Homo sapiens: one gene and its partners. The protein of the gene in region 1 purifies or fractionates together with the protein of each later gene. This does not show direct contact. Each region holds a gene or a part of one and is shown in the gene's direction. Other genes may lie near its edges. The genes, in order: C9orf78, NCDN, BTBD1 and CEP120.

Region 1 (7,949 bases):
CAGGCATTTCATAAAGGCCAAAAGGGAAAGACACCTGTGCAGCTGAAAGAACGTGCTTCCAGGTGCAGCCACGCAGAGTAGGACCTACTGTACAACAAGTCAGCAAGGTGCAGCGTGTGCCCCGCCCTCCCGGCCCACCAGAGCCTCCTCTCTTGGGGCAGGAGAGCACAGGATGGGGGGAGGAAGGCCTGAGACTTTTGGCAAAGAGCCCACCATTGCTGGCCCCAGGAGACCTCCAAGATGCTTCAGGCTCATAAAGGCAGCTTTCCTTCCCTGGGCCTCCAGGGTGGGGGAAAGTGCCACTCCACCCACAGGGGCAAAGTGGAGGGGCAAGGCCTGAGGAAGGGCAGGGGAGGGACCAGCCAGCACAGCCTGTGGTCCTAGGTAGGCAGCACATCTGGACCTGGCTGCCTCTGGTGCCTGTTACTCATTGTTTTCCCAGAGGTTCTGGCTACATCCTCCTCCTCCCAGCGAGGAACCAGTCCCTCAGGATGGGGAGGGCGACACTTCTGGGCCTCCCACCCACACAACGATGCCCACAGCCCTGCCCACGCTGACCCCAACCACATTAGCCATCTCACACCCCCAGCCCCGCACAGGGTGTGTGCCCACCCCCTCCACAGTCCCCTCTGGCCCTCGCACACCCTTTCTCTCCCTCCTGCTGTCTTTACTCTACCTCCACACAACAGCATTCTCCCTAAGTCCCAGACACACCCACCCCTTCCCTTAACCCAGTCCTCACTCGGAGGCCACCATCCTCTGACTCTCGAAGCAGAGCCCTCAGGCCTCCCCATGCCTCCACACTTCCACAGTCTCTGCTGCCCACACACTTCTGTGTCTCCTCATCGCCCTTCCCCCTGCCCCACGGCCCTGAATATTGGAACTGACACTAACATCTTAGTCTGGTGTTCTCACATGTGACCTCACTGGACCCTCACAACCACCCTGGGAGGTGGCAAGGTTCCAAACTAAATCCATCTCCATCACTAACAATGGAGACACCGAGGCTCAGAGAAGTGGAATAACTGGCTAAGGTCACACAGCTACTGAGCTGCAGAACCAAAATTCGAACCCACGACTACCTGCCCTGAAGCCCATGCTCTGAACACTCAGCTCCACGATGTCACAAACAGCCCCGGCCAGCCTGGCATGGGGACGACCTTCACCTCCCCAAATCCAAACACGCGTACTCCAAGGAAGCTTCCTCACAAGAGCCTCTTCTGAGTCATTCTTCAGAGCATTTTTCTGCTCAGCTTAACTTCCTTCAGTCTAGGATATGACAGTATCTCCCTGCAGCTCAAAGCCTGCTACTACCCTTTGCTCTGAGCTCTGTCCGGAAGAGTCCCTTAATTGGAGAAGGCGTGGGTTTGGGGCTACCCTAGGCTGCAGCCAGTCACTGGCCCAGGTCATTAAAAGCCTCACACTCAGTGGTGAGTAAGCATGAGCAGAAACTCAGTCTCGAAGCTCAGACTAGAAACCTTAGAAAAAACTCACATTAGAGATGCGGAAACTAAGAACTAGGAAAATCATGATTTCTGGGGCCTGAAATCAGATCCTCTCTTTTCAGGCAGCATGATCTGCAGCTGCCTTCCCCCATGCAATCTCAGAGTTTAAAGGGGTTTAGAAACCATGCATCTTCCCCTTAAGGCACAACTCTGCTCTGTAAAAGCCATACTGGGTTGTTCTCCAAACCCAGTTTGAGCAGTCGTTGATGATAAAATCACCCTTTTCCCAGAGGGCAGCTCTAGTTGCTACAAACCTAAGTCTTTATAATCAATGGAAATTGGCTCTCCTGAAATTTCTATTTATTGAGCCATGACTGCTCACTGGAGCCAAAGAGCACTGCCACTTTCCTGCCTTTAAATATTTGTTGTTAGCCGGGCACAGTGGCTCACACCTGTAATCCCAGCACTTTGGGAGGCTGAGGCGGGCGGATCACTCAAGGTTAGGAATTTGAGACCAGCCTGGCCAACATGGTGAAACCCCGTCTCTACTAAAAATACATAAATTAGCCAGGTGTGGTGGTGGGCGCCTGTAATCCCAGCTACTCAGGAGTCTGAGGCAGGAGAATCACTTGAACCTGGGAGGCGGAGGTTGGAGTGAGCCAAGATCGCACCACTGCACTCCAGCCTAGGCAACTGAGTGAGACTCCGTCTCAAAAAAAAAAAAAAAAATTGTTGTCAACGTGCATGGCTTCTCCAAGTTTCCTCCTTCATGCTAATGAGAACCAGTTGGATACTGTTTGTCTTGCTAAGGTAAAAGGCTAAGAACAGCCTGGCTCTTTCATCACTGTTAAATACCCCACAATCAGGACTTGAGTTCAGGGTGTACACTCTAAATAAAAGCTTTTGTAAAATAAAGTTCAAGCTTACAGACCCCTAAAACCACCAGGCAGTGACTGGAACCCAAGGCCTATCATTCAATCCACTGCTTTATCTGTCATGTTTCCAACCAAATCCCAAACCAGAATGCGCTAATTTTAATTTGCAACTCAACCTTGCCACCCTCCCGGAGGTGATTCCCTTGTTTTGCTCTATTTGTTTCTTTTCCACAGCACTTACCATCTTCTAACACACTTTACATACTTTACTGTGAGAACATACACTCAACTAATCAGGGATCTTTTGTCTCTTTTGCTGACTTATTTCAAGCACTTAGAACAGTGCCTGCTCATATAGTAAATGCTAAGAATCTGTTGAATACATTGATCCAATAAATACATTTATTGGATGCCGACTATAGCTGGGCTGTGAACTGTATCACGTTGCTGGATCCCAAATCCAATCGGACATGAATGCTCCCTGAACCCTGAAACAAGCCAACATTTCATCTGGCTCCAGAAAGGAGCTAGGAAACCAACCAAAACCTAGGTTGAATCTGTACATTTTCTTAAAACAACTGAACTCCCAAACAAGACTAAGACCTTGGATTCATCTTTGAACTGCATAGAACCTGTATTTCTCGGAGGGTCCTTTTGAGAGACAGTCTCATCCTACGCTTAAAAGGGCCCAGTGAGACTTGGGCTGCAGTCTCTTGGCAAAGCCACTTACTGCCAGATTCATAGCTGCCACTTTTTCAGCATTCCTTTTGCTAAAGAGCACTCAATTAGATCTGCCACAGCACAGGTGGTGGTTATCACTGGGTCCTCTGGCCTCATGGAGCAAGGGTGGGAGCAGCTCATCTGTACCCTGGGACTTCAGCTGAGGAGGAGGGTCCAGAAATGCCCCTGGCCTTCTTGCCCTTTCCTTAGTAGTGTCCAGTACCCCCTGGTGGATGGGCTGCTTGATGGGCAGATTCAGAGCCACCTCTGAGAGCGTGAGAGCTGCAGACGTTGACCCCCTGGACTCCTGCAGCAATTCCCAAGGAGCCTCTCCATCATCTGACAGGGACTCCGTATCCAGTGAGTGCACGTGCATCTGGGTTTGGCTGAACCAGTCTGCAGAGGGCAAGACTTTGAGACTTTAATATATGGCTTTTGACCAAAGATAAAACGCTGGTGCAAGAAGTCCCGAGTCTACTATTTTTTCCAGCCCAAGGAAGAGAAGAACAATCTCAGTGGAGACTGTTCCAGAGAAAACGTAAGGCATTCTAGAAATGCTGCCCTGCTTCGGAATGGTCTTCCAGAAAGGGGAACCCCAGACAGCCCCCATCGGCCCCTCCCCCTAGCCAATGAGATGTAACAGCAGCTGCAGCAGCAGCAAACATCTACTGCACTCCTACCGTGCCAGGCCCTGTGCAAACCGTGCGGCAGAGACTGACCTGCAACCAATTCCTGTTCCACCTCCTAGCTGGGTAACTTGAGGCGTGCACTGCCCCTCGGAGACTCCGCATTCTCATTTGTAAAACGAAAAACAATCTACCTCAAAGGATTGCTGGGAGAATTCAATGAGATGATGCTTTGCCCAGGGCCTGCCACATAGTAACTGCTTAATAAGAGGTAGTTCTCAAAGTAAGGGATGACACTGAGAAAAGGAAAACTACTGTTACTTAAGGGGTTCTTAAAAGTCCTAGAAGCCATTATTTATGCATTTAGGTATTTCCTAAGCGTTTGCTGATACCAGTTTTTCAAATAAACTTTATCCTCACAGCATCTTCGGGGTGGAAGGGGCAGAGGGTAGAGCGACAGACCTGCCGAAGGAGGAAAACCAGACCCGTGAAGGTCCAGGGGGGTGGCCGGCAAGCACCGAGGAGGAGTCCCCCGGCTCAAACCCTCTTGCGTGGCTTCAAAACATCAGACGCGCCTCTCCTCGCGGAGAAGCTGGGGGCCATTATTTGTGAGGCAGTCGGCGCTGGGACTCTAAGTCAGCACCGCAGAGAAGTGGTCATCTTTTGTTCCGAAAGAAAAAAACGCACGTCAGGGCTCAGAGCCCGAGGAAAGAAAAGTCAGCGCCCGAGACGCGAGACGCCACGCGGATGCTTTCAACGCTAGGTCAGGCCCCGGCAGAAATGAGAGGGGGGCGGCCCCGGTTCTGGAGAAGCCACGAGCCCCCAGGGAGCTCAGAGTGGGGTGGTGCTGGGGCCCAGAGGCCCCCCTGGGCGCCGACCGGAGGAGGGGAGAGGGGCGGCGGCGGCCGGGGGGGTCCCGGGCTCCGCTCACCGGGCCGCTGCGTCTGGCGTACCTGGCGAAGCCAGGCCCTGTCAGCCCGGAGCCGGGCTGGGGTCGCCAATGCTCAGAGGCCCGGCCCACAGAAGCAGCCGGTGGCGGCCCGGAACTCACCTGCACTCGCAACTGCGCCGCCGCCGCCTGTCAGTCAAGCGCGCCCCCTCTGAGGCGACGCGCAGGGTTGTGGGGCCGTCTGGCGACGCCCCACCTCCTTCCCTCTGCCGTCCAATCGGAAGAGGCTGACGCCAGGAGAGGGGGCGTGGCCACGCGGACTGTGCGTGCCGGGGGCGGGGCCAGACGGGGCAGGCGCTCTGACCGCTCTGCCGCGCGCCGGAAGCAGCCTGGGCCGCTGCGCAGAGGCGCGGCGGCTGTACAACTCGGCCGTTGTCACCATGCCGGTCGTCCGGAAGATTTTCCGTCGCCGCCGGGGCGACTCGGAGTCAGAGGAAGATGAGCAGGACTCAGAGGAGGTTCGGTGCGTTTGGGGCGGGGCTCCCATAGGCTTGGTAAAGATAGACTTGTTTGGGGGACTCACCACCGGCTCGGCGCTTCGCTGACATTGTTAACTGTGAGCTCGGGTGGTGGTTCCTTCTGCGGACGCAGAAATTGAGGCTCAAGGGGTGAGGCCACCGCCCCAAGCTCGAACGGTTGAGAGAGATGCCTCCGGGATGCGCAGTGGCTCTGACTCCCGGTGGGTCTAGGCACAAGGTCGTCCTCTGGACCACTGTGCTGGTGGCTCAGTAGCTGGGCTGGGATGCCCTCGAAGGTGCCTTATTGGCTCTGTTAGCTTTGGATTCCGCGGGGAATCACTCAGCTTATGCATTGCTGCTTCTTCTTCTTTTTAAAGATTAAAACTGGAAGAGACCAGAGAGGTACAGAACTTGAGGAAGAGGCCCAACGGGGTGAGGTGGGTACCACGCGGGGAGGAGGAGGAGGCGGCGGGGACGACAGACACATCCGCGTCCGGGTCGCTGTCACAAATATCTCCTCAGACGTAGATTTTTCTCTTGACACACTGTACACCTTCCACTGCCCAACTTGGAGAACAGCGTTCTTTGCAAATGTTTAACCAGGACATGCCCTGAGCTGTGTCGTCTCGGGGTGTGCTCCAGAGATACAGAAACAGATCACTAACTCGCGTTTTTTATTAAAACCAATTAATTGTGAAATGCATATCGATCGTTAAGAGTTTGTATAATTTAGAAAAGTATAGTCAAGACGATAAAAAGCACCCATAATTCTCCCATCCGGAAATGATCAGTGTTAACATTTTTTTTCCTTGCAGAGCCACCCAAGAATGCACTGGTATTAATATTGAATACTCTTTCCAATCTGTTTTTTTTCGTCTCTCTCTCTCAGATTGTGAACAACTTTCTATGTACTTTTATTCCCTGTTCTTTTCAACTCATTATGACATTGTGGGCATTCACCCATATTGTGGAATATTTTTCAGAAAGCCTTAATGGCTGCATAATATTCCACCAGATGTGTGTATTGTAATTTGTTAACAAATCCCCTATTTTGGGACATGTAGGTGATTTTGTAAATTTTTACTATCAAATAAGGCTGCAGTGGATATTCTCTTAAATTTATCTTTAGCTGCACTTTCCATGATGAGAATATCTTAGAAATGAGATTTCCAGGCCAAGATAATGCCAAATGGCTTTACAGGAAAGTGGCAAAGTGTACCACTTCACCACCAGCGCACCCTTCTTCCAGCATCTGCGGTGCTCGTTGAGCCCTGTCTTATGCTTATAGGCTTTTCCAGCCGGCTTGCCTACCCACCCCTCAAATCCCACCCTTGCACTAATGTTGCAATCCGCATACCTGAGAGGGTTCCTCCTTATCTCTGAATTATGCCATTTCTCTCTCTCCCCCTCTCTTTTTTTTTTGGTTTTGCTCAGTGCTGTGGCCTTGCTGGTGGGAGAGAAGGTACAAGAGGAGACCACTCTAGTGGTAAGTTATGGGGTCTTCCCTGAGTAGTTATGGCAGCCCTCCCTGCAGTGCTCTTCAGTGAGTGAGCGTGCTTCACAAAAAAAAAAATTCCACTACCATGTATTTAGATGCTTCCTCTTAACTGTGTTTGCTTTCTGCAGGATGATCCCTTTCAGATGAAGACAGGTGGTATGGTGGATATGAAGAAACTGAAGGAAAGGGGCAAAGATAAGTAAGTTCAGGACAAGCTTAGATGCAAATTCACCTTTAGCGGCTGCCTGGGTCTAGGTTCCCTCAGAGAGCTGGGGCCTGTAGCAGCAGCATTAGTAGGACATCTTGAAGCAGGTTTTGTGCTTTGCAAAGGGTGTGTTATTTAAAAACAAAGAAAGCAAAAAGTCTTTAAAAGTTAACTTAGAGCCAAGTTGGTAGACTCCTTTTGTAAGAGTGTATTGTAGGCGTGATGACTCATGCCTATAATCCCAACACTTTGGGAGGCTGAGGTTAGCTTGAGTCCAGGAGTTTAAGACCAGCCTGGGCAACATAGTGAGACCCCTGTCTCTACAAAAAAAAAAAAAAGTGTGTATGTATACACACACACACACACACACACATATGTACACACATATACACATATGTATATACACACATGTATATACACATATACACACACACACACACACATATATATATATACACACACGCATATATATATGTGTGTGTATATATCTGGGTGTGGTGGCATGTGCCTGTAGTCCCAGCTATTCAGGAAATTAAAGTGGGAGAATCACTTGAGTCAGGGAGGTTGAGGCTAGAGTGAGCCGCGATCACACCACTGCACTCCAGCCTGGGTGACAGAGAAAGACCCTGTCTCAAAAAAATAAAATAAGTGAACCTATGGGGAAGTTTCATATAAAAACAATTAACAAAAATAATAAATTCAGGCCAGCTGCGGTGGCTCATGCCTGTAATGCCAGCACTTCAGGAGGCTGAGGCAGGCGGATTACCTGAGGTCAGGAGTTCGAGACCAGCCTGACCAACATGGTGAAACACTGTCGCTATTAAAAATACAAAAGTTAGCCGGGCATTGTGGTGGGCACCCGTAATCCCAGCTACTCAGGAGGGTGAGGCAGGAGAATTGCTTGAACTCGGGAGGCAGAGGTTGCAGTGAGCTGAGATTGCGCCACTGCACTTCAGCCTGGGTGACAGAGTGAGACTCCGTCTCAATAAATTAATAAATCAAACATTCAAATAATTCAAAAATTAAAAAAATAAAAGTTTACTGTGTACTTTTGTGACAACTATATAGCATTTACATTGTATTTGGTATTATAAGTAATCTAGAGATGATTTAAAGCAGATGGTAGTGTGTGTGTAGGTTAGATGCAGATATTATACTATTTTATGTAAGGGA
Region 2 (6,504 bases), on another chromosome or scaffold:
GGAGGCGGAGCCCGACCTGCTGGCCGTGTTGCGGGGCCTCAGTGAGGATTTCCAGAAAGCTGAGGATGCCAGCAAGTTTGAGCTCTGCCAGCTGCTGCCCCTCTTTTTGCCCCCGACAACCGTGCCCCCTGAATGCTACCGGGATCTGCAGGCCGGGCTGGCACGCATCCTGGGAAGCAAGCTGAGCTCCTGGCAGCGCAACCCTGCACTGAAGCTGGCAGCCCGCCTGGCACACGCCTGCGGCTCCGACTGGATCCCGGCGGGCAGCTCCGGGAGCAAGTTCCTGGCCCTGCTGGTGAATCTGGCGTGCGTGGAAGTGCGGCTGGCACTGGAGGAGACGGGCACGGAGGTGAAAGAGGATGTGGTGACCGCCTGCTATGCCCTCATGGAGTTGGGGATCCAGGAATGCACTCGCTGTGAGCAGTCACTGCTTAAGGAGCCACAGAAGGTGCAGCTCGTGAGCGTCATGAAGGAGGCCATAGGGGCTGTTATCCACTACCTGCTGCAGGTGAGGGTGCAGTGACCCACAGAGGGGGCCCAGTATGGGGGGAGCCAGTGCTGGAGCTGGGAGGCAAGGGGGAGGAGAATAATGGGGAGACAGCGAAGCTGCATGTCCACACAAGCTGATACTGTAGCCAGCACTCCAGGGAGTAGTGTGCGGCCCAACCTCCCTCTCTCTCCCTCCCTCCACACAAGCACCATACCACACACCATATGTGCACTCACATCACAGTACACACACACGCACACACACACAACACAGTAACCTCCCACTCAAACGCTCCCCCCAATACACACACACTACACGCCACACACCTCTCCCCAACACATGCACACAAGATTGAAGCAGTCTGTTCTGCTCACTCCATAGCATTGTTTTATACACGCACACACCCGAACTTCTAATGGTGCAGGGAAGAGAAGCAGGGCTGCCTGGTTCCTGGCCTCTATAGAGGTCTGGCTAGATCAATTCGCCTGCCTCCCCTACATCCCCTCCTGCCTCCCCGCCTGAGAGGCCAGCTGTCCTGTCCCACAGGGATTCAGTCATGACTCTGGTCTCTTTAATGGCCTGCTCCAGCCACCGAGCTCACCAGCCATATATTCCATGCACCACGCTAAGCTCATGTCTTTTTTCTGACTTAGCACAAAAGAGAGCATCCCCTCACTCCCACCATTGGGAGCAGTTACACAGTAGCCAGGAACCTGCCCTCCCACCCCAGGTCAGAGCTGCTGTAAAGGGTGTTTAACTTAGCTTTTGACCTATGAATTTCCTTCTAGCCTTGAGACACTCCAGAGGTAGGGAGTTAGGGAGATGTGACTGGAGCCTCAGCGAGTACGGGGGCATGTCACTCAATTCACTCAGGCCCAGTTCACTCAGCAGACGTGTGTGGAGGGCCTGGCTCACTCTGTGCCAGTCCCTTGTGTGCGTCCCTACCACATGCTAGGTGCTGGGTTCATGGGACAGAATAAAGGTTGGGGCCTGCCTTTGAAAGGCTCACAGGCCAGAATTTCCTTCTAGTTGTATTATTTCTAGCTGGCTGGCCTCTGGCAAGGCAGGGAGGGTCCCTGGTCCTGCTCCATCTCAAGGGGGTCCTGTGGCAACAGGTGGGGTCAGAGAAGCAGAAGGAGCCCTTTGTGTTTGCCTCGGTGCGGATCCTGGGTGCCTGGCTGGCCGAGGAGACCTCATCCTTGCGTAAGGAGGTGTGCCAGCTGCTGCCCTTCCTCGTCCGCTATGCCAAGACCCTCTACGAGGAGGCCGAGGAGGCCAATGACCTTTCCCAGCAGGTGGCCAACCTGGCCATCTCCCCCACCACCCCAGGGCCCACCTGGCCAGGAGACGCTCTCCGGTGAGTCTGTAGTTACAGTCTGTCCAGCTAGATCATTCTACCGAAAAGCGTTAACACAAGGACACCCCTCCCCACAAACTGAGCTGTGCCAGGCTTCCTGATTGGGCCATGAGATATCCCTTAGGGTTATTTCTGTTTTGGGGGGCTTGTTCCCACAGGACTCCTCGGCTGCCAGGTGTCACTTGCCAACCCCAGATTTCTCAGTTAAAAGAGAACTTATACTTATTGAGCACCTACTACGAGCCAGGTATTTTGCTATACCCTTTACCAAAATGATCTCATTTGGTCCACGTGGTAAATATAACAGAAGTCTCATTCACATATGAAAGATTAGGAAACTGAGGCTCATAGAGATTAAAGTCACTTGCCCACAGTCACACTTTGTGGCAGAGCCCAAGTTTGGTCCTGGGTTGTGCGACTCTGAAGCTTGTACTTTTTCTGTGGTACCTGCGAGGATGTGTCCTTCTCCCCTACTTCCATTTCTCTTAGGCAAGGTGCCCTAAAAAGGGAATCTATGTGCCTTCATCTCTCCCAATCCCACACACGTCTGTCCCTTCCACATCCCCAGGCTCCTCCTGCCTGGCTGGTGCCACCTGACCGTTGAAGATGGGCCCCGGGAGATCCTGATCAAGGAAGGGGCCCCCTCGCTTCTGTGCAAGTATTTCCTGCAGCAGTGGGAACTCACATCCCCTGGCCACGACACCTCGGTGCTGCCTGACAGCGTGGAGATTGGCCTGCAGACCTGCTGCCACATCTTCCTCAACCTCGTGGTCACCGCACCGGGGCTGATCAAGTGAGGGGCTCGGGAGAGGTGGGGGAGGAGGCCGGAGGAGGCAAAGGAGGCTGCCCAGTTGCCTCAATTCTCAGTCTCCTACTTTGCCCCCCATGCCCATGGATTTGTTAGTGGTAGCATGGGGGTCTCAGAGTAGACATAGCCAGCCCCGCACAAGGATTCGGCATGCTGGAACCCCCAGGTACTGTCTCAGCATGTCTGCTTGTTCCAATCTCTGCCCCCCAGATGCTATGTTTGGGGCCCAAAGTTAATCACCCTACTGCCTAATTTCTTGCCAAGGGCTTGATTTGGCTGTACTAGACCCCCACCTACCTCCATCCTTCCCCCCTTTCTTTTCCAGGCGTGACGCCTGCTTCACATCTCTAATGAACACCCTCATGACGTCGCTACCAGCACTAGTGCAGCAACAGGGAAGGCTGCTTCTGGCTGCTAATGTGGCCACCCTGGGGCTCCTCATGGCCCGGCTCCTTAGCACCTCTCCAGGTAAGAACTGGGGATCCAGTCCTGATGGGTGAGGACAGAAGACCTGGGTGGACCTCCTGTGTTTGGGGCAAAAGTCACCATTTTTAGAAGATGGTTTTGCAGCATTTTCTAAGCAAGAGGAAATCTTTGCAGTGTATCTCCATCCCCTACCCCCACCGTTCTTCCCAAAATGCTAACATTCTCTTTCTTCTGAAGACTTTTAAGGCAAAGTCTGGTGGGTGTTAAGTACAGACCTGCTCACAGGCACAGGCATAGGCACCTGGAATCCCTGGCAGCCAGAGGAATCTGAATCCAGTGTTTTCAAGGTGGAGCCGCCCCCACCCAGGCCTTGAGTCAGAAACCTGACTTCCTTCCATTGATGTTTTTCTCTGCTCTGCTCGGTACCTCACCCCCATCAGTGACAGCCTTCAGCACTTGGTGTCCCTCTATGCACACCTTCTCCCTAGCTCTGCCTCACTCTGGCTGTTTGCAGGGGGAGGGACGTCCCCTCCAGCCCCTGGCAGCCCTCCGTGTCTCCCTCTTTGGCTGTGGGTGTCTGCTTGGGTCCCTCTGTCCCTGCCTGTTCCCTGTGCCCCATCTGTCAGGTTGGAGGAGCTGAGCAGATGCCTGGGAACAGGGCGTAACATGCCCGTACCTTCCACTGCCTCTGTGTTCCTTTTGAGGGGTTCCCAGCAGGGTACCCCGTCATGGGAAGGGGTGCACATCCCTGTACACCAGGAGCCCACTCTGCACTCTCAGTCCCAGGCTGCATCTCTGCAGCCCCCAATTTCATGGTCCCAGTTCTGGCTCACCCTCAAATACCACCAGGTTAGGTTGACAGCTTCCTGGAGAGCACCTGCAGTGTGAGGGTCACCCCTTGAACAGCCAGTAAGCAAAGCAGGGTCACTTGCTTATGTTCCTCTCTGGCGCCCTCTTCTGGCCCAAGGATCAAATGGTGCAACTCCCTTAACCTGTGTCTGAGCTCTGTGTCCAGAACCCTGAGGGGTTCTCTCTCCCATCTGACCCTGTGACTCACCCCCACCTCCAGTGCCGGTAGAGGTCTTGGTGGTTGAGTGTACCAAGATGATCACATTTAATTCTCACAACAAATTTCTAAGATGAGCACTATTGGCCCATTTTACAAGTAAAGAAACAGACCCAGAAAAGTTAATTACCCAAGGTCACACAGTGAGCATCTAAGGCAGGGTTTCAACGCAGGCAGTCTGATTCCAGGCTGTGCCCTGGCTCCTGCATGTGTCTACACAGAGGACTAGGGAAGGGTCTGACACAGCAGCTGGCCTGTCCGATTCATGCCCCACTCCTTCCGTTACCTTGCAGCTCTTCAGGGAACACCAGCATCCCGAGGGTTCTTCGCAGCTGCCATCCTCTTCCTATCACAGTCCCACGTGGCGCGGGCCACCCCGGGCTCAGACCAGGCAGTGCTAGCCCTGTCCCCTGAGTATGAGGGCATCTGGGCCGACCTGCAGGAGCTCTGGTTCCTGGGCATGCAGGCCTTCACCGGCTGTGTGCCTCTGCTGCCCTGGCTGGCCCCCGCTGCCCTGCGCTCCCGCTGGCCGCAGGAGCTGCTCCAGCTGCTAGGCAGTGTCAGCCCCAACTCTGTCAAGCCCGAGATGGTGGCCGCCTATCAGGGTGTCCTGGTGGAGCTGGCGCGGGCCAACCGGCTGTGCCGGGAGGCCATGAGGCTGCAGGCGGGCGAGGAGACGGCCAGCCACTACCGCATGGCTGCCTTGGAGCAGTGCCTGTCAGAGCCCTGAGGGGTGTCCACCGGGGACAGACCCAGGGGCGGGCAGAGAGGGAAGGAGGGAGGAGGCATCTTCCCTGAAGCCCCCAATCTGGCCCCCCCCTCCCCAGACTTCCTCCCCAAAACACCCCAGCTTTCTGGCTTTTCTGAGGGCAAGGGCATGGTGCCCACCCCTCAAGTGTAAGGAACTGCGTTCCGCCCCTCAGGCCCCCATGGGGGCAGGGATCGGCTTGGAAATCAACGTGGTTGTCCCCGCCAGGCCGGGGAAGGTTGGAGCAGCCCCCAGGGAGGGGGGCACTAGGTGTCATTGTGCCCGATGTCTGGCTCCCCTGCAGGAGGGAGGCTCCAGGGTAAGACAGGGCTGGCAGGAGCAGACTGCCTCAGCCCATGTGCCCTGCCGGCCAGGGCGTGGGCTCCCCTCGGCTGTGGTGCCTCCTCTGGCCCCCCAGGTCCACGTCCTTTAAATTGGCCCTTTGGCTCTTGCCCTTGGCTCCCTTGGGCAGACAGCAGGCTTAGGCCATTGATATCGCAGTTCTTCCTATCAGCTTCAGTGACCCAGGGTCTGAACTGCCTCCATCCTAGGGCAACCTGGGGCAGACAGGCCTGGTGGGGGGTGGGGAAACCTCCTTCCACCTGAGCTTGCTTGAAGGGACCCAGAGTCTTTGGGCCCAGATCTTTAAACCTTTGTGTCGTGTTGCAGCAGAGTGACGATGGGGGTTGGGGGGTTATTTATTTTGCCTGTCCTTATCCCTGCTTGGACACCTGAGCATCTGATTCCTGTCCCCCTGGTGCCATCTGGCCTGGCTGGAGCCAGGAACAGGAGGGACACTTCCCCAGAATCCGCATGTTTCCCCAGTGATTACACTCCACTGCCACCGTGGTGCCTGGCTTTAACTCCCACCCCTGCTATGACTCCTCTCTGCAGAGACGCGACTGGCGGCTCCAGCAGGGACTACCTTTCTTATAAACCCAGGGGGACCACACACACACACACACACACACACACACACACACACACACACACACACACTCTTGATCCCTTGCTTCCCTCCCCCAGTGCGTTCTGTGATCGCCAAGTTCAAAGCTGTGCACATGTGGACACTCAATAAATGTTCATTGGTGACGAGAAGCCTCCTGCGTGGTCTGCCCTGCACCTGCTCTCTCCCTTCCAGGCTCCATCAGTTCACAGCTACCAGGTGCTGAACACATGCCCTGCTAAACACATCATGAGACCTCATTCAGCCCTTCCAAGAATCCTCTGAAGGGTTCTGATTTTACAGACAAAGCAACTTTGGCATGGATAAGTGATTGGCTCAAGGTGTTGCCGCTAGTCAGTGCCAGAGCCAGGACTCCACACAGGCCATCCGACTCCCCAGCCCACATCTTTCACTTGTACAGCAGATTGCCAAACTCATGTTGATGTGGCCAGGCCTTGTGGGGGCTCTGGTGCTCTCAAGTACAGATGAAACACTGCACCCCCGCCCCCATGTCACTGGGTTGCTGCCAAGTGGCCCTGCCATATCCTCCCATTTTTAAAGAAGTCAGGAATCCTAATTTGTATGTGAAACCCAACTTTTGAATGTCAGTAACTATCTTTAATTAAATAACTACTGATCCAACAAAACATGCAGTCCAAATGT
Region 3 (7,567 bases), on another chromosome or scaffold:
TAATTTTTGTATTTTTAGTAGAGACGGGGTTTCACCATCGTGGTCAGGCTGGTCTTAAATGGCTGACCTCATGATCCACTTGCCTCAGCCTCCCAAAGTGCTGGGATTACAGGTATGAGCCACTGTGCCCGGCCATCTTTTATTCTTTTTTAAAAAATTCATTTATTTATATATTTTTTGAGATGGAGTTTCATTCTTGTTGCCCAGGCTGGAGTGTAATGGCACAGTCTCAGCTCACTACAACCTCCACCTCCCGGGGTCATGCAATTCTCCTGCCTCAGCCTCCCAAGTAGCTGAGATTATAGGCGCCCCCCACCACGCCTGGCTAATTTTTTTGTATTTTTAGTAGACATGGGGTTTCACCATGTTGGCTAGGCTGGTCTCAAACTCCTAACCTCAGGTGATCTGCCCACCTCGGTCTCCCAAAGTGCTGCAATTACAGGCATGAGCCACTGGGCCTGGCCAGCATCTGTTATTCTTTAATATTGACAAAAACTCCCTTGACCAAACTTTTTATTCAGGCTCCTTAGGACTTTTTTCTCAACTAGGCCTCTACCTTGGCCCATATCCTGTCTTTGGCCTGCCCAACCCAGTCTTAGAAAGAATCTCCCCACCCTTAACGCATCATCTTAGTAATTTTCCACCCATTGACCCCCCTTCACTTTGTTCATTGGCTATAAATGCCCAGCTGTTGATGTTGTTTTCAGAACTGTGCCTGATCTCTCTCTCCTGTTGCAATGCTTCCACTGCAATCATCTTGAATAAAATCTTTCTTACCATTTTAACTAGTGTCAGAATAATTTTTTTCTTTCTTCTTTTTTTTTTTTTGAGATGGAGTCTTGCTCTGTTGCCCAGGCTGGAGTGCAGCGGCACGATCTTGGCTCCCTGCAACCTCTGCCTCCCAGGTTCAAACGATTCTCCTGCCTCAGCCTCCCAAGTAGCTGGGATTACAGGCGTATGTCACCACACCCGGTTAATTTTTGTATTTTTAGTAGACATGGGGTTTCACCATGTTAGCCAGGCTGGTCTCAAACCCTAACCTCAGGTGATCTGCCTGCCTTGTCCTTCCAAAGTGCTGGGATTACAGGCGTGCGCCACTGCAACAGCCCAGAATAATTTTTTTCTTTAACAATGCCTTCAAACAGTTGTTTACACACACACACACACACACACACACACACACACACTCCAGCTTGTATAGTTGTTTTTGGTGGGAGGGTTAGACAAGTTGGTACATTATGGCTGAAACTGGAAGTCTACTTACTTCTATAACAAACATGTATTATTTTAAACATTTCCTTTAAAACAATAATAACATGTTTAACGAGCTCATCTGGAACCAGTCTTCCCTGAAGGTTATTATTTTGAAAGTTTTAATGTCCTGTATAGATAATTGAATTGTCCAGGTTTTCTAGACGAGTACATTCCTTTGATATTTTCAAAGCCACTAATAGAATTACTCATATTTTTAAACTCCACAATTATGTTTATATATCCTTTCTTATGTCCAATTCTATGTTTTTTAATCTCTTTCCTTTTAAACTAGCTAGTATAGTATACTATAGAGTGTGATCTATGAAAGGCCTGCATTAGAATACCTGGGATGACACTTAAAAGTAGTAAGTGAATTAATTTTCTGAATCATCAATGGATACTGAAATCAGTAGGTGAAAGCTTTTTGGGGAAACAGACTGGTCAAACAGTCTCAGAGCATCACCCTCATGGATTACTTATTACATAAGAATCATACACCTTCATAATGGAGGGATCTGACAGTCACAGCCTCACCAGGTCATCAAGCTTAGCATCACCAACATACGCTTTCTGAAGTGAGGCAATGAAGTACTTAACATCACCAGCATATTCTTGCCTAAAATGTTTAACCTGGAATCTAACCATGAATCATACAGAATCCACCAGACAAATCCAGATTGTGGAGCATTATACTCCACAATTCCCCGGACCTTCAAAGAAGTCAACACAGTCAATAATATGTGAACATTGATTTGATCCTGGATTGGAAAAAAAGTCATCTGTGAAAGATATTTTTGGCCAGGCACAGTGGCTCATGCCTGTAATCCCAGCACTTTGGGAGGCCAAGGTGGGCAGATCATAAGGTCAGTAGATTGAGACCATCCTGGCTAACACGGTGAAACCCCGTCTCTACTAATGACAGGTGAAGCCAACTGGACTTCTGGGTAGGGTGAGGACTTGAAGAACTTTTCTGTCTTACAAGTGGTTTGTAAAATGTGCCAGTCAGTGCTCTGTAAAAACACACCAATCAGCACTCTGTGGCTAGCTAGAGGTTTGTAAAATGGACCAATCAGCACTCTGTAAAGTGGACCAATCAGCACTCTGTAAAATGGACCAATCAGCATTCCGTAAAATGGACCAATCAGCACCCTGTAAAATAGACCAATCAGCACTCTGTAAAGTGCACCAATCAGCATTCTGTAAAATGGACCAATCAGCAGGACATGGGCGGGGACAAATAAGGAAGTAAAAGCTGACTCCACCCCCCCCACCCCCGCCGGCCCCTCCCCTCCTGCCCCCACGCCCAGAGACTGCAACCACCCGTTGGGGTTCCTTTCCATGACATAAGGGCTTTGTTCTTTTGCTCTTCAGAAGAAGTCTTTGGGTCCCTGCCATCTTAAGAGCTATAAAACTCATCAGGAAGGTCCACAGCTCCATTCTTGAAGTCAGCAAGACCACGAACCCACCAGAAGGAACGAACTCTGGACACACTAAAAATACAAAAAAAAAAAAAAATCAGCAGGCTTGGTGGCAGGTGCCTGTAGTCCCAGCTACTCGGGAGGCTGAGACAGGAGAATGGCGTGAACGTGGGAGGCAGAGCTTGCAGTGAGCGGAGATCATGCCACTGCCCTCCAGCCTGGGCAACAGAGCAAGACTCCGTCTCAAAAAAAAATTTTTTTAGAGACAAGTGGAGAAACAAATATTAACTGTACATTAAATATTATACATAGGACCAGGCCTGGTGGCTCATGCCTGTAATCCCAGCACTTTGGGAGGCCGAGGCGGGTAGATCACGAGGTCAGGACTTGGAGAGGAGCCTGGCCAATATGGTGAAACCCCGTCTCTACTAAAAATACAAATAATTAGCTGGATGTGGTGACACGCACCTGTAACCCCAGCTACTCGGGAGGCTGAGGAGGAGAATCGCTTGAGCCCGGAAGGCAGACTTCATGCCATTGCACTCCAGCTTTGGCAACAGAGCGAGACTCCGTCTCAAAAAAAAAAAAATCATATATAGATGATTTGATGATATGGTTAATTTTGTTAGGTGTGATAATGGTATCATTAGTAGCATGATGTCCCTTTGTCTTTAGGAATTGCCGGCTGGCAATGGGGAAGGGGTTGTGCATCCACTATTTCAGCCCCTACTACTTTAAGTCTCTTCCCAAGCACGTTCCTCTCCCAAAGAAGTTACCATTCTAAATGCCTAACAGCTGGAAGTCCCCTCTGGTGGTTTCACAAGTGGAGTGATTTTACAGGAGAAACCCAGGTTTGGGGTTTACTATTTACTTGACGGCATTTGTAATCTGTAAGGCTCTTCCTGCAAAGAACAGGTGTTTCCAACTATACGTGCCTGGTCAAGGACTATTTCTTGGGTTTTCTACGTTCTGCTTTTGACAGCTGACTTAACTCAGGGCCTGCCTCACTGAAGGGAGAAAAAGGAAGGCCTCGGTCCCCCAATCATGATGACCGGGTTGTAAATACTGCCTGGGAAGGGATAATACAGCCTTTTCCATTGTGTGTGTGTTTTAGTTTTTAATTTTTTAAATTTCAAGCTTAGGCAGTGGTTCAGTGCAAGGACTGAAAAGCGCTACAAGAGAAGGTGGGCAAGCACGAGGGGTTTCAAATACAGGGGTGGAAGCAGTAGAAGGAAATGTCTCTTAGGCCCAGAGGACGGAACCAAAGGGTCAATTAGAAGGGAAAGGGACCTGCGGACCTGGGGAGAGGTCACTGGGGTTCTAAGCCTTCCACCTCTGCTTCCGGAATTTCCACGGGTTTCGCGGCCTTCTGGAGCGGCGACTTGGCCACGCTTGGGGTACAGGGTTGTGGGAAGTCATGTCATCCCCTCCCTCACGTGTTCCCTTGGCCATACTTTCCTGCCCCTCCACTTCCAGGCAAAACACTCCTCGGGACAGGCCTTGGGACATGTCCCAGATACACAATGGGGGCGCTGGACTTGGTGATAAGGGGCCTGCAGGAAGAAAAAGGCAGCCGTGAGAGCCGCCTGCAGATCCACGATGCATCTTAAAATTACAAATTCTCAGGCCCTACCCCAGACCTACTGAGTCAGAATACCCAGGGCACTGAGCCAGGGGGTGGGTGCCCGTAGGCCCGGCAGCACCCAGCCTGCAGAAGCTCCACCTCCGGGAGCGCTGAGCTAGGACCAGCTCCCCACGCCCCTGCCCTGGGGCTGCCGGGAGTCCAGTCCTGTTACACCTCCCGCGGCCGCGCACAGCGGCAACCCGGGCGTGCGGGGGCGCGCGCGGTCAGGGAGGGGCCTGCGGAGGCGCGAGGCCCCCGGAAGCGCCTTTCCCGGAAGGCAGGGAGGCAGCGCCGGCCTCCGGAGGCGGCCTGGGCGATGGCGGCGGAGTTTTGTCCATAACGTGGGCAACCGCGCAGCTGGAGGATGGCCTCACTCGGGCCTGCCGCAGCTGGGGAGCAGGCGTCGGGGGCTGAGGCGGAGCCGGGCCCCGCGGGGCCGCCGCCGCCGCCCTCACCGTCCTCTCTGGGGCCCCTGCTCCCCCTGCAGCGGGAACCTCTCTACAACTGGCAGGCGACCAAGGCGTCGCTGAAGGAGCGCTTCGCCTTCCTCTTCAACTCGGAGCTGCTGAGCGATGTGCGCTTCGTACTGGGCAAGGGTCGCGGCGCCGCCGCCGCTGGGGGCCCGCAGCGCATCCCCGCCCACCGCTTCGTGCTGGCGGCCGGCAGCGCCGTCTTTGACGCCATGTTCAACGGCGGCATGGCCACCACGTCGGCCGAGATCGAGCTGCCGGACGTGGAGCCCGCAGCCTTCCTGGCGCTGCTGAGGTGAGCGGCAGCGCGGGCCGGGCCGGGCCGGGCCGGGCCGGGCCGGGCCGGGCTGGGAGATCCCCGGGGCCCGGCCTACCCGGACTCCCGGATGACCTTGGGCTGGGCTCTTCTGACCCGCCCGGGGCCTCAGTTTCCTCCCGAGCCGTTGATGCTCCGGAGGGTCGAAATCGAAATCTGTGAACCAGGACGGCTCAGTCGCCAACTAAACGTTAGTGTCTTCATTAGGCAAGCGTGCGTTTTACCATTGAAAGGCGTTTCGCATTCCAATTATGGATTGTCGCTCAGACTTCAGAATTAGACAAGTGGCAAGGATAGAGGGGCAGATCAGGTTGTCCTGATTGCCCATTTGCGAAGTTTTATGTTTTTGTTTGGGGGAAGAGAGTAGTTGAAAAATCTTGCAGGACTGATGTTTTGGGGTTATTGTCACCCCCTTCCCCCCGCTTTTTTTGAGACAAGGTCTTGCTCTGTTGCCCAGGCTGGAATGCTGTAGCGCGATCATGGCTCACTGCAGCCTCGACCTCTCCGGGCTCAGGTGATGCTCCGACCTCAGCCTCCCGAGTATTTGGGACTACAGGCACGCGCCACCACGCCCGGCTAATTTTTTTTATTTTTATTTTTGGTAGAGAGAGGGTTTCACTATGTTGCCCAGGCTGGTCTCGGACTCCTGGGGTCAAGCGATCCGTCCACCTCGGCCTCCCAAAGTGCTGGGATTACAGGCGTGAACCACCGCGCCTGGCCACTTTTTTGTTTTTGTTTTTGTTTTTCATTAACGTATTAGTTGTCAAGACCCAGGAAAGTAAATACGAAAACAGACAAGTGAGGCTTTACCTGCTTTGTGTTTCTACACACAAGGTCACATTTGCTTATAAATGAATCCCTCCCTTGATGTTAGAATTTGCTTGTTGGTTATTTGAGGATAGTAGATTGACATCTAATGAAAAGGTGATTGTTTGGCATTACTAGCTTTTAATCACAGCCATCCTGTTAGGGAGGCGTAAGAATTGTTTACCCCAATTTCACAAATGGGACTGAGGCCCAGAAGAGTCAAGTATCTTGCCCAAGGTAACAAACAGCTAACTCACACTGAAGACCATGTCTGTTTCATTATACTAAGATGGTTTTAAATAGCTGCCTGAGTAGAACGTGTTGTTATTAAAATGGCAGAGTCTTGGGTAGTACTGAAGCAAAAACAGGCAGGTCAGTGGGACAGAATTAGATACAAAGGTTCACAGTTGAATCAGAAAGATGAACAAGAAAATGAATGTAAAGTTCACACAACTAGAAACAAATAATAAGATTCCATTGACGAATGGATAAAGGACAGGATAGATAACTTAGAGAAAGAAAAAATACAACTAATTAACGAATGTTTTACCTGGCTGGTAATTAGGAAGTGCAAATTAAAAGACAGTGGTATTTTTTCCTTCCATTAATCCCACCAAAAAATTTAAAGGTAACATCTGAACAGCATTTTCTGACAAAGATGGTGGTAAAAACCCTTTTGGAAAACAGTTTGGTGCTATAGATTTTCTTTCCACACGTAAGAAGCATTCAAGTATTGCAAATTGCATACAAAAATATTTACAGCTTTATTTATAGTAGTGAGGAAGTAGTCAGCTGTAGGGAATGGTTAAACAGTGGTAGGTTCACTTGATGAGATATAATGCAGTCACTAAATATGACGGATAGCACTTGAAACTGCACCATGGTTACAACGTGAAAAGACATGGAACAAACATATACCTAGAGACCGGGATAAAAGGAAACATACCAAAATGCTAAGCAAAGTCACCTGGAGTAGTGAGATGAAAGTACCTTTTTTTCTTCTTTATTCTTTGTTTCTGATATTTTCTGTAATTTAGTTCAGTTACATTTATAAAGGGGGGGGACCTCAAAAGCTAAAATCCAGGTCATTTTAGTTTAAAGTTCACCAGGAGGATTGGGTATAGTTCATTTGGATTTTCTAGACTAGAAGTAGTTTTCAAAATGATCTGTGGGCCGTCTGCATTATAATCTTCTGGGGTGCTTATGAAATGTGTAGATCTCATCCTCATTATATACCGTAATATTTGGAGGTGAGACCTTGGTAGCATTTTTAACACTCTCCCTAAGTGATACTTATACAAACTAAATTTAAGAACCACAAATCTAAAACTATTTTGGGGCAATTTTTTACTTTGAAAAAATATTGAGATTACTAGGATAAGAATGTAGAGGAAAAATACATATTTTAATATTTTCACCGAAGCTGCTAATTAGTGCTTTCCCATCAATAGAAAGTAAGTTAATTTTAGAGTGTTTGAAATGTAGGACAGTGCAATTTTTTTTTTCACATTGTAAAACATTTTTTACATTTTTAAACTTTTTTTTCATTTTTACATTTTCAGTGTGTTTTATTTTCCTAGCATTGTATTTATCCTTCAGGTTCTGGTCATTGTTCTATTTTGAAATTGATATCTGGACTGATTTCTAAATTTAATTTTGGCTGGCTGTGTAACGTAGA
Region 4 (7,023 bases), on another chromosome or scaffold:
CTGTAGGCAGTTGGACAAAGGTAAGTATTTGTGTATCTAAACAGAAAAGATACAGTAAAAATATGATATAATTTTATGGGACCATCATTGTATGTGAGGTTCATCATTGATGGAAACATCATTTCATATTTGGTGCCTGTGAAATTTAGCATTCAGTCTAACAATTGTGTTAGACGACATTCCAGGTAACAAAAAACATCTTTGACTCCATTGAGGGAATTCAAAGAATTTAGTTCAGAAAAGACTTTAGGTCAGAGTTGATAGGTATGAACACATGTTTCTCTCTTCCTTAGGATTCCATTACTGGTTGAACTATGGCACAAGGATAAAATGAGTAAAGATTTACTTCTGGGAATTGCGAGAATCCAGCTTTCTAACATCTTGTCTTCAGAAAAAACTCGTTTTTTAGGTTCTAATGGTGAACAGTGTTGGCGTCAAACTTACAGTGAAAGTGTGCCTGTTATAGCAGCACAAGGGTAATGCATTTCACAGAATTGGTATTTGCTTTTCTTTTCAATTCATGGAATGATTTTGATTAGTCAGCCACCACTTCACCCTTCCATAACCTCTTTTTTCTGATCCACCACTTCACCCTTTCATAACCTCCTTTTTCTGATCTTCTCTGACCTGTGGCAGCTATACCCCACTTTGCCCTTTAGCTTTCTGATACTGATTTCACCTCACAGAAGTCAAGAGTCTGTGTTACCATGGTATTGTAATATTCAGATGGCTAATTATTTTCCTTCCTCTCTCTAGCTTGAGAATTTTAAATGCAGGATCTATTTTTTTATTTTGTAATTTGAGGTTAAACTTTATAATGTATTTTATATTATTTTGCACTGGGAATGGCTAAGACTGTTTTTCCACTTAAAATATTTTACTCCTACCCCAAATCAAAAGTCTGAGGACATTATAGATATTTGGCAGTCAGAGGCAGTTTTTAAAATAATTATTGGTTTTTTGCCCTGAACTTCATTGCCACAAAGAAAAACTTGCGTTTTTTTAACATATTTTAAATACAGTAAAATATTTGTTGAATTATCCTTTCAAAATTAACAATAAAAATTTAAAATTTAACTTAACATTATATATCATATGCCCTTTATCATTAAAGATAAGACTAAAAAAAAGAGAAACAAGGCTCAGTGAAATTTTAGCTCTAAAAGTATTGAAATGTCTTTCCTTATTCCTCACCATTCATGGCCATTTTGTTTCAACTCCTATTATTGAAGAATCTTTCTTAAAAATTAGCATTTTTTTGTCGTAAGTAGAAGATAATAAAATCACTAATAATTGAAGCTATTTTAATGCTGCCCGTTTGTTATGAATATTAACTTTTATTGCCATACTTTGTAGACAGAAAGTTTTAGGAGATTTACTTAAGTGAGAACCTTAGATACTCTCAGGAGTTTCTGTCAGATACAGTAGTGCTTCATTTAACTTTATTCATTTCTTCTGAAATCTGTGAGATTAGAAGAAGAAAATACAAAAGTTGGTTAATTAAGAGTTCTAATTGTGTGAGAACCATTCATTCAAGTTTTGTTTGACCAGAGTATATTTGATTTAGACAAAACCATGGTTTTGTATTACTAGCATTTTATTTTCTTCTAATATTTTATCTTGTTCTCATTTGGTTAATGACAAATGCTGCATGCAGTTGTATGATACAAAGAGGTGCTCATTATGCTCATACTAACATATAATTATCCTAGAAGCATTGCTTATGTGCCAATTAGGCCTAGAGGCATTGCTTATGTCTAGTAAAATATTTATGAGTATGTACATCCCAGGAAAAGTAGAAAAAAGAATTCAGAATAACCAATATAATCAAGAGTAGGGGAATTGTTAAGTATATTTTACTACATAAATTCATTTGTATATTTTACAGGCAGTAAAAAAAAAATCACATTTTTAAATTAATGTTATGATGTGAGAAAATGCCCCTGATGTAAATAGGAAAACAAGACAAAACTGTATGAAGTCAGCATGCATGTGTGCATGTATATCTATATATAAATAAAACAGGAGGGAAATAAACTACATATTAGCAATAATTACCTGTGGGCAGTAAGATTTTAAATTTCACCTTTATACCTTTTAAAGCTCTCATAGGGGTCATTTTGTAGTAAATGTATGCGTGTATTTAGCAGGGTGTTTGTGATGATCAATTTATATATATATGGAAGGTGTTGAAGCCTACAGAAGTTGCTGCAGTTTCAAAAACAATAGAGTTAGGAGCAGAAAATGTTGCTTACTTCCCATTGCTAAAGCACTGGGGAAATAAAAGGAAAAATAATATAAAGTATTTCTGTGAATTTTAAGGTATTTCTTATTTTATTTGTAGATCAAATAACAGGATAGCAGATCTTTCTTACACAGTGACTCTAGAAGATTATGGACTAGTAAAAATGCGTGAGATTTTTATCTCTGATTCATCTCAGGTAAATATAATTGAATGTTATCAAATTTTTTTTAAAAGGAATCTAATGTGCATATGTGTGTGAGTGTTTAAATGTACTTTTTGGTTCATCTCTTAGGGTGTATCTGCCGTACAGCAAAAGCCGTCTTCTCTTCCTCCAGCACCTTGTCCTTCAGAGATCCAGACAGAGCCTCGTGAAACGTTAGAATACAAAGCAGCACTTGAGCTAGAAATGTGGAAGGAGATGCAAGAAGATATATTTGAAAATCAGGTTACTTTTTAAATGTTACTTTAAAAAATCTGCTTTGTCTGCTCTGTATATTTTTCCTTCTCCGTAGCAAGGTTTAATCTCTATGTTCTGTAGGTACCTTATCTAACTTCTTTGAATGTCAACAATGCTTTACTTAAAAAAATTTGAGAATCAAAAAATACCTGAAATGTGGCACCTTGGCAGAAGCCACTCAGAATTCTGTAAACTTTGTTCATGATTATTGGGTAAAATTGGGAAGTTACTCTTTAAATTTCATGTCCTCATTTGGCATGCCCTCCTGGAACCTTGCATCATTAGTCTCCAAACAAGAGTTAGAAAGCACAACCCACTGTTAGTTTTATAGTTTCCTGAAGTGAACTCAAATGGGCATTATTTGCCTCAGGCATCCTCCTTTTTTTTTTTTTTTTTTTTAGAATAAAAAAGAATGCCTGAAAAAATCATATTAGTGATCAGCATCGGTTATTTAACTGACAACTGATTCATTTATTTGACATATTTGGGGTTTTTTGGCGACTTTATTTTTCTTCCTTTTGTAGCTGAAGCAGAAAGAACTGGCTCATATGCAGGCTCTTGCAGAGGAATGGAAGAAAAGGGACCGAGAAAGAGAATCACTAGTAAAGAAAAAGGTAATAACTTGTGTAAAAGTGAGGAAGAGAAGGAAGAATATTAATGATAATATCTTGTATTTGCGTTAAAGACAGTCTCTGGAAGGAATAACTAATTTTAGTGGTGATATGTTGGCATGGAAGAAGTGAGTGGTGGCTCTGGATAGAGAAGGGAGGCGTTTCACTGTAAAGTATTTTGTGCTTTTGGAATATGCAAATGTATTACCTATTCAAAAAATATATAATATAGGCCAGGTATGGTTGCTCACACCTGTAATCCCAGCACTGAGGGAGGATTGCTTGAGGCCAGGAGGTTGAGACCAGCCTGGACAACATAGTGAGACCCCCATCTCTTAAAAAAAAATATGTGTGTGTGTATATGAATATACAAAAATGAATAGAGAAAAACCCTGCTGATGTATAAAAAAGAAATAAAAGCACATTTCAATATATATAAAACTACATATTATAATCTGTAAGTTAATAGAATGCCTCAAACGTTTAAGCTATTTTTAAGAATTATGAAATAAATTACATTTTTAAAAATGATAACATGAGACCATCTGATTTTATTCCTGAAGCAAAAGCTTAATATTTATCCATTTACACTGAAGTTATTAAATAAAACAACCCTAACAGACTTTCTTCAAATATTCTATTAATAATTTTAGGACTTTAGAAATACTCTTATTAGTGGTTAATCAGTATTCAGCTTCAGATTTGAGGGGATGGCTCTACAGGGCTCCAGTGCTCCTTCTCTCTATAACCCCCTCCTCTCATCAACTCTAGTTGCCTCAGCCTCTCTGGTCTCCATTCCGTTTTCTCAGCTCAGCAAGATTGCTAGTGTCTGTTTGGGTTCCCCTTCCTTGAGCTACTACAGTCTTCAGGCAGTAAGCTAGATATATTGTAGTGGTTGCCTCATTTATTTCTCACCTTTTAGGGATCATTGTCCTGTGCTGCCTGTTGCCCAATGTCTAAAAACAGTTGTTTCATAAATGTTGTTTAAGTTGTGTTTATAAAGGAGGGCCATTTGTCTTTTATGGGTGGAAACAGAAGTACACAGGCCTTTGATTTTAAAATAACCAAATCAGCTTTTTCTAACTTAATTCTCACCATTAAAAACTTGAATAACCAGTGAACTTTTAAAAAAGCTGAAAGACAAAAATAAGAGTATTTCAAAGTCTCTATTCTTTAGAAACGTTCAGATAACCAAAATTACAATAATTAGAAGCCCTGACATACATTTTAACATTATGCGAGTTATCCTGTTATTAAGTGAGTTTCATATTAAGTAATATTTACAGACCTCACCTATTAGATATTCATTGAATCTGGGGGAGCTGGAAAATACCATTTTAATTTTTAAAATTTTTAACCTAGCCTTTAAGACAAGATGAGTTTATCCTTGAATCATTTCTCTTCATTGTGTTGAAGAGTATTTTAGTATTGAGGTCTGCAAAATTCAAATCGGGAAATACTTGAAAAGTTAATAAAATTACTAGAACCGTGACAAATTCACTTTGTGCCATAATTAAACTTTCTGTGAAAACTCACCAAGTAATTTTTGGTTTGTTGTCATTTTGGTAATAATGATCTTTTCAGCTAAAATTTGTAATTGGTTTCCATTTATACACTTCTACCCTTTCAGCCTGAAATGATGAGTTCCTGGCTAGTTAATAACTCCAGTCAGAAAACAATATGATGCCTACATAATAAGTGTTTGTGCTGTTTATTCAAATTAGTCATATGATAAAGGTAGATCTGAGATTGAGATTTGCCATTTTCTTTCAACCTAAGTGCATTTTTGAGACCAAATACTTTAATTCATTTGTCTTAAAGTATCCTGTCTTGCATGGGATCAGTTTTTCTTTTAAATTTTATCAACCACTACAAAATCAAGTCAGTAGTGAGAAAAAAAAGTTGTTTTTCAGTATGATGAAATATTTTAAAGCTAAATACCCTGAGACTCTCACTATAGTATTTTTTAAATGTCAATTATATGTGAGCCTTTTCGTTTATTTACCTGATTTGTCTTAAAAAACGATGTATAACTTCTTTCACACTTTGAAAATTTACCTGAAGGAGTAGATATATACGTGGTTCTTGTTCTGCCCTCTGGAGCAACTGAGATATACTCTGTCTTACATATGACTGCCTGTCAGATAGCTGAAGATAGTCATTACCCACAGAGAAGGAAGACATCAGTTCTACATAAGGAAGTGTTCTGTAGATAAGATCATGCTTTCACTTTGGTGAAGATTAGTGGATATTGCCAGGTAGACTCAAAGGGTATTCCGGACACAGCCCCTTGAGGAAAAGGCAAAGAAGTTTGAAATACACTCTGCATTAAGAAAATTATATGTAGTTTGATGTTGGAAGAGGGGAGGAAAGAGTGTGCCTCAAGAAATAAGGTAAGAGAGGTTGATACCCTGGAGAATAAATGATCTCGTAAATCCATTATGTAGAGTTTAGACTAGATACTGTAGGCTTTTCTTAGCCAGGCCTTCCTGAGAGAATGAAGCCCTTAATACCCTAAGTGATCCATTATTGGTAATAAATTAACTTTATCCTATGCATCTAAAATGGTAGTTATGTACCATTTTAGGAGAGGATGGAGAAAATAATTAAATCATTTTCTGTGTTTTGTGGTTCAGATGATAAACCCTGGTTGAGAACGGTAGAAATATCAGAAATTTTTTAAATGAAGATTTTTATATAAAATAATTAGGTTTTCATTCTATAACAATAATTCTGATGGAGGTACAGTGGCTAGAATAGAGGAATGTGAAACTAAAGTCCAGGAGACCAGGAAAGCAATATGTATAAAAAACGAAAGCCAAAAACTAATAGTAGTGAAAGGTTATGGAGAAAAGATGGGTGGTAAAGAGATGATTTTAAGGAGGTTTAGGACCTCAAGCGCTAAGACGTCCTCACGGCTGCTCACAATCCTACTGCTTTCCCTAGTCAATTCATTTTCTCACTCGCCAGAACAGTTAGTTTTTGTCTTAACAAACAATCCTTCCTCATCCTTACCCGGTTTATCTCTGTCTTTGAAACACTTCCTCTATTTGGCTTCTTTGACTATATTTTTTTTTTGGACTACACTTTTCTACTGTTGTGTTCCGCTGTCTTCACTGGTCTCTCTTTCCTAATTTTCATGCTAGATTCTCCTCATGTTGGCTTTATTGGCTTGTCCCACAGCCCAGTCCTCAAATACCATCCTTTCTTCTCTCTGTATACTCACTCCTTGGATGATGTCATTCACTCTCTTGGCATTATATACACCAAGACACCCACCACACGCACCCCCATCCCTGACTTCTTCCCTGGACTCCACACTTGGCTATTTAGTTGCTTACACTACATATGCGTTTCAAATTTAGCAGTCTTTTGTTTCCATCCTCTGTAAATTTAGATTAAGTCTAACATACTAGAGGATGTGGAAATCATAATATGTGAATAACAGTTAAAATTTGTGTTTATCTTGGAGAAGAAAAAAGACCAAGAGGAGGAAATATGACCATCACCAGTCTCAAATTCATAAAAGCACATTTTTTTCTTTGAATTGGCGGATGTAATTTGTGACTTTCCTATTCTTAGGTCCTCTGTTTCAGTGAAATGATGTGTATTTTTGAATTTGTGTGTGTTTTAAGTTTGGGAGAAGGTAGGTAACTTTTTTTTTTTTTTTTTTACTATATTTTAGGTGGCTGAATATACTATTCTAGAAG

What was found.
Region 2: the proteins of C9orf78 (region 1) and NCDN purify together in Homo sapiens (affinity purification with mass spectrometry; 2 studies listed by BioGRID and IntAct, with this or other methods). This does not show direct contact.
Region 3: the proteins of C9orf78 (region 1) and BTBD1 purify together in Homo sapiens (affinity purification with mass spectrometry; 3 studies listed by BioGRID and IntAct, with this or other methods). This does not show direct contact.
Region 4: the proteins of C9orf78 (region 1) and CEP120 purify together in Homo sapiens (affinity purification with mass spectrometry; 4 studies listed by BioGRID and IntAct, with this or other methods). This does not show direct contact.

What each region holds. Positions count from the first base shown.
Region 1 is NC_000009.12:129,832,268-129,840,216, reverse strand, and holds the start of C9orf78 (splicing factor C9orf78), read left to right. Parts: upstream 1-4,941; 5' UTR 4,942-4,995; coding exon 4,996-5,078; intron 5,079-5,450; coding exon 5,451-5,510; intron 5,511-6,507; coding exon 6,508-6,559; intron 6,560-6,699; coding exon 6,700-6,770; intron 6,771-7,949. UniProt on the Homo sapiens protein: Plays a role in pre-mRNA splicing by promoting usage of the upstream 3'-splice site at alternative NAGNAG splice sites; these are sites featuring alternative acceptor motifs separated by only a few nucleotides. May also modulate exon inclusion events.
Region 2 is NC_000001.11:35,560,787-35,567,290, forward strand, and holds the end of NCDN (neurochondrin), read left to right. Parts: coding exon 1-508; intron 509-1,605; coding exon 1,606-1,847; intron 1,848-2,415; coding exon 2,416-2,640; intron 2,641-2,980; coding exon 2,981-3,123; intron 3,124-4,440; coding exon 4,441-4,877; 3' UTR 4,878-5,993; downstream 5,994-6,504. UniProt on the Homo sapiens protein: Probably involved in signal transduction in the nervous system, via increasing cell surface localization of GRM5/mGluR5 and positively regulating its signaling. Required for the spatial learning process.
Region 3 is NC_000015.10:83,064,245-83,071,811, reverse strand, and holds the start of BTBD1 (BTB/POZ domain-containing protein 1), read left to right. Parts: upstream 1-4,559; 5' UTR 4,560-4,660; coding exon 4,661-5,061; intron 5,062-7,567.
Region 4 is NC_000005.10:123,378,404-123,385,426, reverse strand, and holds part of CEP120 (centrosomal protein of 120 kDa), read left to right. Parts: intron 1-293; coding exon 294-476; intron 477-2,344; coding exon 2,345-2,441; intron 2,442-2,537; coding exon 2,538-2,690; intron 2,691-3,226; coding exon 3,227-3,316; intron 3,317-6,998; coding exon 6,999-7,023. UniProt on the Homo sapiens protein: Plays a role in the microtubule-dependent coupling of the nucleus and the centrosome.